Linked DNA regions of Homo sapiens: all the other regions are linked to region 2. The links come from fine-mapping of genetic effects on gene expression. A gene starts in region 2. Each other region holds a variant in brackets. All regions are shown on one strand. Distances are from middle to middle.

What was found. PIP is the estimated chance that this variant, and not a neighbour inherited with it, causes the effect.
Region 1: its variant is the best candidate, but not a certain one, in a credible set for the expression of PZP in testis (GTEx, PIP 0.60).
Region 3: its variant is the best candidate, but not a certain one, in a credible set for the expression of PZP in nasal epithelium (TOPMed, PIP 0.83).

The regions. Positions count from the first base shown.
Region 1 is chr12:9,159,798-9,165,031 of GRCh38, reverse strand. PZP (PZP alpha-2-macroglobulin like) reads left to right here. Exons shown (of 36, transcript NM_002864.3): 20 at 773-899; 21 at 1,243-1,364; 22 at 2,384-2,435; 23 at 3,916-3,999; 24 at 4,542-4,718; 25 at 5,007-5,094. It also overlaps a transcript of KLRG1 not described here. Among named protein-coding and RNA genes, the nearest start is that of PZP, 46 kb to the left of the region's middle. The variant G/A (reference allele first, on the strand shown) is at 2,926.
Region 2 is chr12:9,206,346-9,211,579 of GRCh38, reverse strand. It overlaps PZP (PZP alpha-2-macroglobulin like), which reads left to right and starts at 3,185. Exons shown (of 36, transcript NM_002864.3): 1 at 3,185-3,321. The coding sequence starts at 3,239. It also overlaps a transcript of KLRG1 not described here.
Region 3 is chr12:9,180,411-9,185,644 of GRCh38, reverse strand. It overlaps PZP (PZP alpha-2-macroglobulin like), which reads left to right. Exons shown (of 36, transcript NM_002864.3): 14 at 3,528-3,670; 15 at 4,513-4,662. It also overlaps a transcript of KLRG1 not described here. Among named protein-coding and RNA genes, the nearest start is that of PZP, 25 kb to the left of the region's middle. The variant G/C (reference allele first, on the strand shown) is at 2,902.

The sequences.
Region 1 (5,234 bases), 47 kb after region 2:
TGTTAGCACTGTGAATAATTAGTGCTATGCAAAGCAGGACATGATCAGAAAGATAATACAATGATATATGTGCTATGGGTGCTTAAATCACGGCTCTCTAAGCCACACCTTGCTTTTCTATTTCTTAGCGCTTGCAGAATTCTTTGCTGCAAGTTAGGTTATATGCCAGGAACATTCTTGAAGCTGACACACAACTCAGCTTTCTCAGTTCCACGAGAGTCATTCTCCAACCCGTCATCTTGAAATCTCCAAAATATATAATTTTAATTTATCTTATAGCACTTATCTCTTTGTAAATTATGTAATAGTGGTTGTATATAGATCATCTTTCTTGTGACACAATATCCTCAAGATCGGGAGCCTCTCATCTACCATTCCCAGTGTTTTATGTCTTGTATGGATTAGACATGTAATATATGTTGTAAGAAATAGGAGAAGAAAGGAAGGAAGAAACTATGAAAATCTACATAGCAGCAGATAGTATTCCCTAGGGCAATATACAATCACTGCTTTTCCCTTTCCTCTGCCACTGCCAAGCCTGCACGTCCACAAGCTACCCTAAGGCAAATGCCAAATCCTCCTAATACACAACCAATCTTGATTTGTATCATTGCCATTGCCATGCTTCTTAAAGCATGGATGAATCTATGTGACATACATTTTTCTTACAAATCCCAATTTACTGCAGCATCTCACACTTGGCCCCAATTCTATGTGTTCGTGTCGTTCCATATTCTGATCATTTCTGTCTCTGCCTCACATGGGGTGATAGGTCAGTGTGCAGCTGAAAGCCTCTCCAGCCTTCCTAGCTTCCCAAAATACAAAGGGAGAAGAATCCTATTGTATCTGTGGAAATGAGAGACAAACCTTGTCTTGGACAGTGACTCCTAAAACTCTGGGTGAGTGACAGTACCCAAAAGGGCCTATCAATCAACAAGGACGGTGGCTGTCTGAGTACTTTTTTCATCATATTCTCTCTTTTATTTGCCATAGATATAATTCTATAAAGTTAGTTTTTTTTCCTATTTCTATCCACTATGACCTCCTCCCACTGTTCTCACCCAAGCTAGTCCCCAGAATCACTATCTTGGACATTGGCTACTTAGTATACATTAACCTTGTGGGTTTCTTTTTTTTTAGCCTTATTTTCTATTCTGGACAACTATAAGTTTAAGGTGCAGCCCTTAAAGGTGATTGGACTATCAAAGTGGATACTCATGTTTTCAATATTCCTTGTTTTAGGGAATGTGAACTTCTCAGTGAGTGCAGAGGCAATGCAGTCCTTAGAACTCTGTGGAAATGAGGTTGTTGAGGTCCCTGAGATTAAAAGAAAAGACACAGTCATCAAAACCCTGTTGGTGGAGGTAACATATTTTTGGGAGTCCCTAACAACTGTAAGAATGCAACACCGGGCGGTCACTCTTGAGACAACAAAGAACCATTAATATCATGCTCACACAATACATCCTGTAAGACTAATGGAATTTCCTGCCCTAAAAGCATTGCAGCAGACAACATTGCCAGCTATTGTAAATTTTTTTTCACAAATTATTTGAGTGCAATTTCCTTTTTTTTTTTTGAGACGGAGTTTTGCTCTGTTGCACAGGCTGAAGTGCAGTGTTGCGATCTCGGCTCACTGAAAGCTCTGCCTCCCGGGTTCATGCCATTCTCCTGCCTCAGCCTCCCGAGTAGCTGGGACTACAGGCGCCTGGCTAATTTTTTTTTTTTTTTTTTTGTATTTTTAGTAGAGACGGGGTTTCACCATGTTAGCCAGGATGGTCTCAATCTCCTGACCTCGTGATCCTCCCTTCTCGGCCTCCCAAAGTGCTGGGATTACATTGAGCGCAATTTCTTGATCTCCACCTCTCTCCTAAGATTCACATATCTCTCATACCCATTAGCTTTGATTTACTGCCCTTATTATCTCTTCCCATTTTCTCTCTACCACCCTCCCTGGTTCTTCAATGTTTTATGGATTTGTAATAATTCAATAACAAGTAGGATGTTATGTTCTCACTTATAAGTGGGAGCTGAATGATGCAAACACATAGACACATGGAGGCGAGCAACATATATGGGGCCTGTCTGAGAGTGGGAGTGACAGAAGGGAGAGCATCAGGAAGAATAGCTAGTGGATGCTGGGCTTAATCCCTAGGTGATGGGATGATCTGTGCAGCAAACCACCATGGCACACATTTACCTATGTAACAAACCTGCACCTCCTGCACATGTCCCCTTGAACTTAAAACAAAAGTTGGGAAAAAAAGAGTAGGATGGTAAACATCATTCGTGTAAACCCTACCCATCAAAGAAAGGAATCCATGTGGTTCTCTTGTCACCAGGATGTTTCTATCTTTTCTCCTTTTCTTTCCTTTCATCCAAGGCTGAAGGTATTGAGCAAGAAAAGACTTTCAGTTCTATGACCTGTGCCTCAGGTAAGAGTCCATCTTCATAATCATAGTGAGATCAAAACCACAAAGGGGTATAAACCTCAAGTTACAATGCACATTCATTTTATCTCCCAGTTTTCAGAGTGTTCCATGAAAGTCAGCATAATACTAAATATTTCTTTATGTATGTTTTACAGATGAAGACATTGAGCCCAAGAGAGCAAGTTAATGTGACTCAGGTGGTACAGACAGGACTAATACCTGGGCTTTCTTGGTTCATACGTAGCCCTTTTACCTGGATAGCCCAGTGGCTGCTCACTGACAAGCCCAGCTGCAGAAGCTTAGAGTGTCCCAGGATGAGGTAGAAAGAGAGCAGGGTTAGCCGGGTGTGGTGGCTCACATTTGTAATCCCAGCATTTTGGGAGGCTGAGGCGGGAGGATGACTTGAGGTCAGGGGTTTGAGAACAGCCTGGCCAACATGGTGAAACCCTGTCTCTACGAAAAAAACAAAAATTAGCCAGGCCTGGTGGCGGGC[G/A]CCTGTAGTCCCAGCTACATGGGGGGCTGGGGCACGAGAATCGCTTGAGCCGGGCAGGGGGAGGTTGCAGTGAGCCGAAATCACACCACTGCGCTCCAACCTGGGCAACAGAGTGAGACTCTTAAAAAAACAAACAAGCAAACAACAACAACAACAAAAACTAAAGACAGCAGGGTCATGATAAGTTTGAATCCCAAGAGATAGTCTCTAAAACAGCTGCTGACAAAACATATAGCATTTCCTACCCATCTCACTAAAAATGTGTGTTTTCCGTGTAGAAAATAATTTACATTTAAGTTCATCATATCATTAAGAAGTAGTTGTAGCTTTTATACAGAACCGCCACATTATTAGTTCTATGTCCACAGTGTATACAGCACTGTATTTGTCATTTGAGAAGGACTAATTTAAGGTATATTCATGTTATCTATTTATAAACATGGGAATCCATTCAAATATAGTGTAAGGGAGGCAGTAAAATAACTTGTATTATCATGGTTATAAGTCTTAATATTGCTACAAAAGTGGAGAGCGATAGTTCCCCCACTAAGTCTTAGGCTTCTTTTAGAAAGCTACTGAGCACAGCCATGCAAAAATATAGTTAAATGAGAAGAGGAAGGACTCTGGAAGTCACACAGTGCCAAAAGCAATTAGACTATCAAAGGTAGTCTCATCATTAAGTCAAATTCTTATTCCTTGCACCCAGAGTTCCACAAGGAGATATAATAATATTACTGCTAACTCTAATAATAAAATAACTGCAATAATAACAATTGCTCACATTCGTTGAAATTGAATATGTTGCAGATACTGTTCTGAATGTTTTACATGTGTTTTTTCCTCAAATCATCACAATTTACCCAAGGTCACAAAGCAGGGCCAGTACCATATCCAGGGAGTGTGGCTCTGAAGCTCTCACTACATTATAATCACTAAATTATATTGTAATCATAGATGTCCTCCTTTAACATGGGCTGTCTGTTTCTAAAGGTGCTAATGTGTCTGAGCAGTTGTCCTTGAAGCTCCCATCAAATGTGGTCAAAGAATCTGCCAGAGCTTCTTTCTCAGTTCTGGGTGAGTCACCTTCCATTTAGTAAACCTGGGCCAAAAGAGTTGCCACTGTACATCTTATCTACGTATTTGTATTTGAATTATCAAGTTCTTGATAGCTGCTATTCTTTTTTATTTTTTTGAGATGGAGTCTCGCTCTGTCGCCCAGGCTGGAGTACAGTGACGTGATCTCGGCTCACTGCAAGCTCCGCCTCCTGGGTTCACGCCATTCTCCTGCCTCAGCCTCCCGAGTAGCTGGGACTACAGGCGCCCGCCACCACGCCCGGCTAATTTTTTTGTATTTTTAGTAGAGACGGGGTTTCACCGTGTTCACCAGGATGGTCTCGATATCCTGACCTCATGATCCGCCCGCCTCGGCCTCCCAAAGTGCTGGGATTACAGGCGATAGCTGCTATTCTTATTAGGATTCTGGAAGTCACACTCTGTGTATATAACTTTTCTCTTACCTAAATGATAGACTCTGAATATAAAGGCCATTTTTGTTAATAATGTTGGCTATTTATGAACTGAAATTATTCTGACATCTAATCTTTCACATTCCCCAGGTGACATATTAGGTTCTGCTATGCAAAATATACAAAATCTCCTCCAGATGCCATATGGCTGTGGAGAACAGAACATGGTCCTATTTGCTCCTAACATCTATGTCTTGAACTATCTGAATGAAACCCAGCAGCTGACGCAGGAGATCAAGGCCAAGGCCGTTGGCTATCTCATCACTGGTAAGTGAGACAGAGAAAAATTTACTTTGTTACTCTAATGAAACTTTTCCCAATTAAGCTTCAGTTATATCATCAAATATTAACCCATGATGATAATTTTTATGAAAACAACAATCTTCCCACACTCTAATAGGATGTTGTGTTTGATCTATCCATAACATTCACAAAACTATGGCAGATCACAGAAGGTCATAAAATGTCCATGGCGCCTGGATGCATGAGCCTAAACATATGGATGGCCTGCCTTTCTTTAATGCTTCATGAACAATCTGAAGCCTTCCATTTCAGGTTACCAGAGACAGCTGAACTACAAACACCAAGATGGCTCCTACAGCACCTTTGGGGAACGATATGGCAGGAACCAGGGCAACACTTGGTAAGAAAGAAAATCTATTCTGAGTTTCAACTATGAGTTCAGAACGTGCACATAGATTACCTGTCTTAGTCCATTTTCTGTTGCTTATAACAGAATACCTGAAACTAGGTAATTTATAAAGAAAAGAAATTTATTTCTTA
Region 2 (5,234 bases):
TTCCCCCCAAAATTCAAAATAATCATCTTAAAGATGCTCAGTAAGATGCAAGAAAACACAGATAGACAACTAAATAAAATTAGAAAAACAATGTATGAACAAAATGAGAAGTTTAATAAAGAAATAGAAACCATTAAGAAAAAACACACAAAAATTATATAAGAACAGAACTGAATATTTTAATGGAGAGCTTCAACAGCAAACACAGTCACACAAAAGAAAGAATTAGTAACTTGAAGACAGGTCATGTAAATAGTTAATTAAAGGTGAAAAAAGAAAAAAAATTAAAGAAGAGTGAAGAAAGTATAAGGGACCTATGGAATACCATCAAGCATGCAAATACACATATTATGGGAGTCCTAGAAGGAGAAAAGAGGGAAATGAGCAGAAAGCTTATTTAAAGGAATACTGGAAGAAAAATGTAAAAGCTAGAGTATTGGTGGCAATATGGGGATACGAAAATCCTCATGCACTACTGGTAGAATTGTGGTGTGATGCAACCATTCTGGAGAGTTATTTGTCACTATTTAGTCACTTAAGTACATGCCTCTCATACAACAATCTCACTCCTGTGTATGCGTCTTGCAAGAGGATTTACCTGTCTCAAAGGGTATATGTAAAAAGATATTTATCAAAGCATTATTTCCTCATGGCAGGACAATAGAGACAATCCTGTTTTTATCATTAGGAGAGTGGAAACATTAAACCTCTTGGATGATCACCAAAGAGGGCTATACTGTAATAAAATGCAATTAATAAAATACATACATATAAACATATAAACATGGGAGGATGTTTTAAAACTAGCAATAACTAAAAAGAATAAGAAACAGGCAAGGTCTTTTTCCAATACTCTTTATATAAAATAAAAATACACACTTAAGACTTTCCTTTCCAGTAATGGTATACAAGGTAATTGAGACCAAACTTCCCACTTAAATTAGGAATGGTTGGTTATATATATATTCACTGGAGGTATTGAAAAGCAAAGACTGTGAAGAATTATGAATCCAAAGTTCAGAAGCAACATAGCAACCCAAAGGGGCAATTCTGTGTTTAAGGGCACTTTCCCCTTAGGGTATTTAACAGCTCCAGAATATTTGGCTGAGAGATTTAGAAGCACATTTTAAAGCCTTTAGTAAATAAAATTGCAGCGTCTAGAGTCCAAGGCTCATGAAACTGGGGCAAGGAGATGTTCCTGATAGACCCTTTACATATTGTGTTGAGATATCAAACTGATGGTAGAATTCAAATGGTCCATAAACATATGAAAAGATGTGTAAAGTCATTAATAATGAAAATTAAGGCAAGATACTGCTTCACTCATCAGATTGATAAAAAGTAAAATGCCTAGCAGAGTAAAACGATGGTAAATATATAATAAACTGAAAATATCCACTGTTGCAGATGGGTATTCAAATCCATGTAATACTCTGAAGAGCAATTTACCAATCTGATAGATTTCAAGATGTACATACATATATAGCCTATAACCCAATCTCTGCTATATACCCTAGAGAAAGTCTTGCAAATATGCTTAAGTAGACATACCGTATTTGTAGCAGTATTATTTGTAATGTTGAAAACTATGAAGAATCCAAAATTCAGCACTAGGGGAATAGAGTAACAGGTTCGGCCACATTCATACAATAGAATGTCGTATAGATGGTCATTAAAATTAATAAATTTTATCCTCATTATCAATGCTAATAAGTCTTAAAACCATAATAGTGATGACATATTTTACAATATGTGCATACCACTTATACATATAAAATACAAAACACAAAATTATGCTATATATTATTTACATAAATATGGATTAAAAACATAAACACATCTTGAAGAATACATATCAACTTCCTAATCCCACAACATTGGAAGGGAAATGAGATTGGAGAGAATTACAAAGGAAACTCCAACCATATTTGTCTTGATTTATTTCTTTTTTTGGGTTGGTGGATCTGGTAAAAACTGGAAAAGCTTCTAGACAAATTTTAAAAGAGCACTACCATTGCCATCTTTCATTTCTTAAGAAGAAATGACCTTAAACAAACTTGGCAAGTGTTTAATTTTATTAAAGTTGGGTGCATGTAAGGTACGAGTGTCTTTTATCTTGCTCTCTATATTTGTGAGTATATATATATATAACATTTCATAATTTAAAAGAAATTATTTCATTCTATGATAATGTGACAAAAGAAACAAAGATGTGAAATAAAAACTAATAGGAAGGAATCCACTTTCAGCAGTGTGGCCAGGAATTTGCTCTCCAAAGAAGGGATGATTAGGCTGAAATATGGAGAAAGAGAAAGAAAGTTGATTTAAAAAGTTTCAAGCAATACAGTATGTAAACAGACACCAATGTCTGCAGTCTAAGGATGGCATTAAATCTGCTGGTGGTTTATATGTGATCATCATTGTACTACAAGTTCTATGAGAGCATGGATACTGAATATCCTGTTCAATATTGTATTTTCATCACCAGAATAGCACTTAGCACACAGTATGGCTCAAAAAAAAAATCTCAGATAAAGTCAATGACATGGTTTAAGGGACTCAAACGTTAGAGTGCTCAGACAGTAACAAGGACAGATAGGATCAACTAAGAATCTGATCAGGTCAATGCTGTGAAATAGACAAGTGTGATCTTTGATAACTCCTTTCTAAAATCTCTTTGATCTTTTATCTCTTTTATCTTTCATTGATCCTCTACTCTTGAAATCCTTATTTTATATCACTTTCTTCCAGGACCATGTACTCAATCAACTGCTAAAAAAGAAAACCCAAAAACCCTAAAGTCTATAGTTATAACTCACTCAGTCCCAGAAATGAATCTGCAATGCATGAGCTACTATCATGGTAACATGTCCCTGACATTCTTTGTCAGCATCCTTTGTCACCTGCTTGTAAGGATTTTGAAAGAGATGGAGAAAGGTAGGTTGAAGGTTCCTTATCAGGAGGTTTGCTGTCAAAGCTCATTCTAAATGGAATACAAATTTTATCTTCCAGACATGCCTCAGTACCTATCAGAATTTAGCCTTGAGAAAAATGAGGCAACCACTGAGAGTAATGACCCTTTTAGGGAATCTGTGCTCAATTCTGAACTCTATTCAGAGGCCTTGGGGTGGGGCTTGTTTGTACATAGTGGCCACATAAAGCCTGGTAAACTCAGCTGGTCTCCAGGGCGAGGCTGAGGGCAGAGAGTTGGACACAACCCTGAGATTTATCCCTCACAATGCGGAAAGACAGACTTCTTCATTTATGTCTTGTGCTACTTCTTATCCTGCTTTCTGCCAGTGACTCAAACTCTACAGAACCGTAAGTCTCACTCAAGACCCCTTCCTCCAGAGTGCGTTTCAGTCTCTCCCTTGTGTCTTCGCTTTGCCTTCCTTTGTAAATGCCACCTTTCCACTCATTACAATACCTTCCAAATATAAGAAATTATTCCAGTTAATCCCTTGTTTGTCTTTCATTTATCCTCTATTCTTGAAATCATTTTTTCTACACTGGGCCAATCAGAGTCATAAATACGATTAGTCACTAGGAAGCATGATTAAATAAAACACTAGATCCCAACTTCACAGAACAGTTCTTTTGGATGGAAGGCACTGAATATAGAGATATTCGAAATATATAGTGAAGTGCAACTTAACATGTATTGTAGGCCATATATATATATACAGAAAGTATAGCTCCTTTATTTTTCAATCATGTATCAAGTCTTCACCAACAGCCCCCAGTGGGGGACCAAAGCAGGGAAAATAATTTTAACCCTATCCAGTTGTAAGTTGGTACAACTCAATAATTGTAAGACTTCTTTTCCACCTCTCCCCAGTTCCTCTCCTCTATAGTGTCTAGAGAACTGTGGTCTCCATTAACTCCTAATAGAGAAAACTGTCAGAGTCCTTGGTCTCAAAGTTCTCCGTCCTTCTTGGCTACTGTCAGTCTGACTTCTCCTTACTTGCTGGCATGCACTGTTGAAGTTTAGCCATCTGGTTTCTCTTGTGTGTTCAGGACCCAACAGTCCTCTCTAACTGACTGTCTCACTTCAGCTGTTTCATATCCCATAGAACTCCTACCTTTGCATCCTGCCTCAAATACTATGGCTATTGTTTCAACACAGCCTGTGATGCAGGGTCACCTTGCCCCTTTGCAGTCCAGGCCATTTAAGGTCCCTGGCCTTAACCCAGCTGCCTTTACATTTCTTCCAGAGAATGGTGAGAACTCTTGGGTCCAATAATAGCACATAGGCACTGAGGTGTCCTGGAGAGGTTAAACTTCTACCTCTCTCTTGCATACCCACACTGCACTTCTAGATGCCTATCGTGTCTCCTGTATTCCAGACTGATACAGGGAAGTCTTCAGAGTCCCAAATCGGGAAAGGGATAAGGGGTCCCTCTGCTCTGTGTGTTACCCTTATCCATCTAACACAAATAGCCTTCTTCAGGCCAAAGCGCAGAAAGCAGAAATAAGGAGTTCAATCCAGTAAGTCTCCTGCTTTCCTCAGGCTTTTTCCTTGCACAATTTCCTGGCAACCGGTAGGGGTACATTTCTCCCCCACTATCCCTCTACCTCATCTACAGCAGTGGGCTCTACTACTTCCAGCTGCTCTCCATCCAGAAAGCATATGGGAATATGTGGAGGCTATTTTGCTTTCTGAGAGCAGACTGAATGGATAAAGCGAGTAGCGTGTATTGGGTCAGAAACATTAAGCAATTTGTGGTTCTGGATGCATTCCTACACTACATTGGACCATGCTGCCATTGAAACCATCCTTTTACGTTGTGTCTGCCACTGAACAAAGAACAACAAGCCTCATGCCCTAGTTGTCACAAGCAGAAGGGGTGTTTTCTCCCTTTATAAGGAGAAAACTTAACTTCATCCCTCCAGAATTAACCCTTGATGTGATAAATGTGAGAGACTACAAAAGAGAACCAATAGCCATTCTCCCCTGCCTTGGGGCAGTAAGCTTCAGAAAGATGAAGGTTTCAGGGGAATAAAATGAAAAAGAGAAAATTAAAAGTTATCACTTTAATATTTGCTACATTTAGTCCCTGCTAAAGAGGCAAATATTTAAAATGCAAACATTCATGATTGAGTAAACATATATTAAAACATTTTAGCAGCTCACTACCAATGACATCTTGGGCAAGTTTGTCAACCTGGATTTGTTCTGATTTCAATATCTGTTAAAAAAATATTAACTGAACTCATATAAAATAGTTCTTTAG
Region 3 (5,234 bases), 26 kb after region 2:
TTGGTGAATCTGATGATTGTGTGTCTTAGGGATGACTTTCTTGTGAAGTATATTTTGGGGTTCTCTTCATTTCCTGAATATGAATTTGGCCTCTCTAGCTAGGAGGGGAAGTTCTCATGGATGATATCCTAAAATATGTTTTCCAAGTTGCTTTCATTATGCTCATCTCTTTCAAGGATATCAAGGAGTTGTAGATTCAGTCTTTTTACATAAATAATCCCAGATTTCTCAGAGGTTTTGTTTATTCCTTTTCATTCTTCTTTCTTTATTCTTGTCTGACTGTTGTATTGCAGAAAGTCAATTTTGTGGCTCTGAGATTCTTTCCTCAGCTTGGTCTGTTCTGCTGTTAATACTTGTGATTGCATTACGAAATTCTTGTAGACTGTTGTTCAGCTCTGTCAGGTTGGTTATGTTCTTTTCTATACTGGCTATTTTGTCTGTCAGCTTCTGCATCATTTTATTGTGATTCTTAGCTTCCTTAGATTAGGTTTCAACATTCTCCTGAATCTCAATGACCTTCATTCCTATCCATAGTCTGAATTCTATTTCTGTCATTTCAGCCATCTCAGCCCTATTAAGAACCCTTGCTGGAGAACTGGTGTGATTGTTTGGAGGAAAGAAGATGCTCTGGCTCTTTGAGTTGTCAGAGTTCTTGTGCTGGTTCTTTCTCATCTTTGCGGGCTGATGTTCCTTCACTCTTAGAAACTGCTGTTGTTTTGATTTTTTCCTTTTATCCTATTCGATGACCTTGGAGGTTTGATTGTGGTATAAGGTGAGTTCAGTCAACTGACTTTGTTACCAGAAGATTTGGGGGCAGTGGAGGCAGGGAGGAGCAAGGCTCAGTTCAGGACTCCTGGATTGCATGCTGTAACTCTGGGGAACTGGTATCTGGCTCCAGCTTTGTTCTCTGGCTCCTTGAGGTTAAGAACATGTTGCACTGAAGGGACCAAGGTGCTCCCAGACCACTGGTCACAACACTTCCATGGGTGATGTCAGCCAAAGCACTTTGCAGGATGGTAGCAGTGGGATCCCTCCTCATTCACATGTACCAGCAGCATGGCAGTGGCAGCGTGGTGGGGTACACGCTCATCAGCTGTGGCAGGGTGCTAGCAGGTGCCAGGTTGCTGGCCTTTGTGCAGGCATTCATAGCAATGATCATGGCAGTATGACTCAGGGGATTGGGGGATCCCCACTAGCAACTGTGCATGCATTTGCACTGACGGTGGTGTTAGCATGGGGGTGGGGCACTGGTGGGTGCAGGACTGTATGAACCTTTTGTGTGCATTCATACTGGTGGCAGTGTCTGTACATGGCTAGGGGTGGGTTTGTGTGTTTTGTGCCTAGTTTTGCACTGGCAGCTCCATTGCAGGGGCAGGGTGCTGGCAGGGGTGGGGTTGGCGAGCTTAGTGCCTGCCAATGCTCTGATGTCAGTGGCTGTGTGGTAGGAGTAGGGGTGATGGAGGACACTCACGCTGCCAGCAGTGGCAAGGCAGGGTGCACACACACACATGTGTTGGCAAATTTTATTATTAAAAGCTTTAATTTCCTACCACTATTCTTTGCCATAAAGTCACCATAATTTTTTTTCTGGTTTTATGACATTTCAATCTACCCCACTTTCCTTGTTGAACTCAAGACAGTGATAAAAGGGCTTCCTTCCTTTTAGAAGGGGAGCTTATTTCCTTTTTGAGGTCTGAGCTAAAACTTGATCTGTCCAACTGAACACAAATATGAATGGCATAACACTGCCTTAAGGATATTTTAAGCTTCCTTTCTTCCCAAACTTAAGAGCTTTGCAGTATAAACACATAGTGATATAAAATAAGTAATGTTAAGCTAAAGTCAAATTTGCATGAAGTTGGAAAAATTCCACATTCTACGTAGAGTTATAACAATTTTTAATTGAGTGCCACCAATCTCAGGCTTTAATATAATCATTTTAAAAAAGTAAATTTTGGCCGGGCACATTGGCTGCTGCCTGTAATTGCAGCATTTTGGGAGGATTGCTTGAACCGAGGAGTTTGGGACCAGCCTGGGCTACATAGCAAGATCCTATCTCTACAAAAATATATAAAAAATTAGCCAAACGTGGTGTTGTGCACCTATAGTCCCAGCTACTGGGGAGGCTGAGGCAGTACAATCACTTGAGCCCAGAAATTCGAGGCTGCAGTGAGCTATGATTGCACCACTGCATTTCAGCCTGGGCAACAGAGCAAGACCCTGTCTCAAAAAAAAATTACATTTATTTAAGGTGTACAACATAACGTTATGGGACACATATAGATAATAAAATGACTACTATAGTGATGGAAAGTAACATGGCCATCATCTCACCTACTTACTCATTTGTGTATGTGTGGCAAGAACAGCTAAAATGCACTCATTTGACAAAAATCTAAAATATAGTACCATTTTATTAACTACAGTCTTCATGTTGTGTGTTAGATAGCTAGCCTTGTTCATCCTGATATTATACTTTGTAAAATATTCCTAAGGGTATTAGACTTAATTTTTAATACATATGGTTAAGAAAAAAATAAAATCAATTATAGTTCTTCTACAATTCTAATTGTCCTTGTCCTACATTATTTTGAGTTTCAACAATGTCGAGAGACTCTGTTATCCTATGTATTGTCTAACTGCACCAAGAATATGTTACTGGAAAAGAACTTGGAAGCACAGGAATTTAAAGCCATATAGCTGGGAATCTGGGACAGGAGGGATGTAGAGAAAAGGAAGACATGGAAATAATACCAGAGAGTATCTGTCCTTTATGTACAGGCATCTCAGAAACTTTTCAGTCATTAAGTCTCTCGTGGTTTTATAATTACCGTTATTCAACTAAATGTGGGCCATCTACTCAAGTCCCCAGTGGACCATTCAGAAAATGGAACTTTTGTT[G/C]TTGCCCTTTTGTAGCTACCTGGTGGCCCTTCACCCTGCTTTAAAATGTAAAGTATTTTCTGAAGTGTTATCTGGTACCATTTAATGCTTCCAGTAGAAATATACCAATGTACTTATAAGAGTTTAACACTGCAATGAAAACTCCAAGAATTAAATATTCTTTTAGGAAGTTCAATTAGTATGAACTTTTTTTTACATACAGAGCTTTTTAAAAGTCATATATGACAAAATAAACTTATTATATCTTACAAATTATAGCTCTATATTTAAATTGAGAATCACCTCTAGTCTGAAATGTAAATAAAATAGTTGTCACATATATATGCAGAAAATTTGGAGCTACTGATATTTAATTGATTTAGGCAACAGTTAAGTGGAATATCAAATAAAAAAGATGTGAGTGAAAGGAACTTTGTTAACTTCTGCTATAATTAAAGTTCTGAAGGGAGACATTGGCCTACTAATTTCACCAAATAACTAATGGCACATAGAGAGACTAAGCCATTAGAATGAATGGACGCAGTTCTCAAGTGGATAAGACCAAGCAATAGTGTCCTTATGACACTATTTTTATGACCTTTTTGTCTCACTTATGACCATTTTGTCTCACTCTCTCCATGTTCCAGTGAAAGGCAGTTTTGCCTTATCCTTCCCTGTGGAGTCAGACGTTGCCCCCATTGCACGAATGTTCATCTTTGCCATTTTACCAGATGGAGAAGTTGTTGGAGACTCTGAAAAATTTGAGATTGAAAACTGTCTAGCCAACAAGGTGAGCGATTTAACATAAAATTAAAAGAACACAAATAAATGATACTGTAGGTGCCATCTATTTTACCCCAGAGAAAACTAAGTCCAGAAAAGTAAAATGAGTTGCCCAACAGTTCCCAACAAGTTTATGGCAGACCCAAATTTCTAGGGATCTAGTACAGCACTTTTTCAATTACACAAAGCTGCTACCAAATAAAATACAATCAGTTTTGTGTTCATGATGCTCTTCTCTGCTGATTCAGTTGTGTGAGTATGTAAAATGCTAAGACTCAAAAGTTCCCAAAACCTGAAGAATAAGTGTAAACACCTAGAATTACCTTATCATGTGTCAGAGATAAAGATGGCCATCTAAAAATCTAACAAGGTATCTATCCTTATTCTGCCTCAGTTATCTCCTTAGGACAAGACTAAGCTACCGAGAAGCTATATTTTGTTAAGATTCCCCACTTATGTAATAGTCATGTTTAAAAGAGTGAGTAAATTAATGTGTCGCCAAAGCATTAGATAATTTGGATCCTGTCTAAATAGAATCACTTTTGATCACTGGAGTAGGTAAGCTTGTTATAAAATTAATACTTGCAAACATAAGGGAAGTCATGTACCTTTTAACAGATCTAACTATTTATGTCTCTAGAGTTGTTGGGATCTGTGAAAGTGGTAATAAGTGATTTACAAATTATTTTCTATTTTTAAAGTGAAGGAAAGTTGTAAAAATAGGTTTCTGACTGACATTACCAACATAGTCATATGAACTGAATATAAGGGTGGCTTAGGAAATGCAGGTGACTGCAAGATCACAGAAGTAGGGAAAACACTGGTTGACGTTTCCTTCATTTCCCACAGGTGGATTTGAGCTTCAGCCCAGCACAAAGTCCCCCAGCCTCACATGCCCACCTGCAAGTAGCAGCTGCTCCGCAGTCCCTCTGTGCCCTTCGTGCTGTGGACCAAAGTGTGCTGCTCATGAAGCCTGAGGCTGAGCTCTCTGTGTCCTCAGTGAGTTTCCAGTGGCCTTGGGGACCAGGAAGGGCCATTCCAGAGGCTCAGATCAAGAAGCCTCTATTAGCCCTTTGTCAGATGAGTAGGTTGCGAAAATTTTCTCCCATTTTGTAGGTTGCCTGTTCACTCTGATGGTAGTTTCTTTTGCTGTGCAGAAGCTCTTTAGTTTAATTAGATCCCATTTGTCAATTTTGTCTTTTGTTGCCATTGCTTTTGGTGTTTTGGACATGAAGTCCTTACCCATGCCTATGTCCTGAATGGTGATGCCTAGGTTTTCTTCTAGGGTTTTTATGGTTTTAGGTCTAACATTTAAGTCTTTAATCCATCTTGAATTGATTTTTGTATAATGTGTAAGGAAGGGATCCAGTTTCAGCTTTCTACATATGGCTAGCCAGTTTTCCCAGCACCATTTATTAAATAGGGAATCCTTTCCCCATTGCTTGTTTTTCTCAGGTTTGTCGAAGATCAGATAGTTGTAGATATGCAGAGTTATTTCTGAGGGCTCTGTTCTGTTCCATTGATCTATATCTCTGTTTTGGTACCAGTACCATGCTCTTTTGGTTACTGTA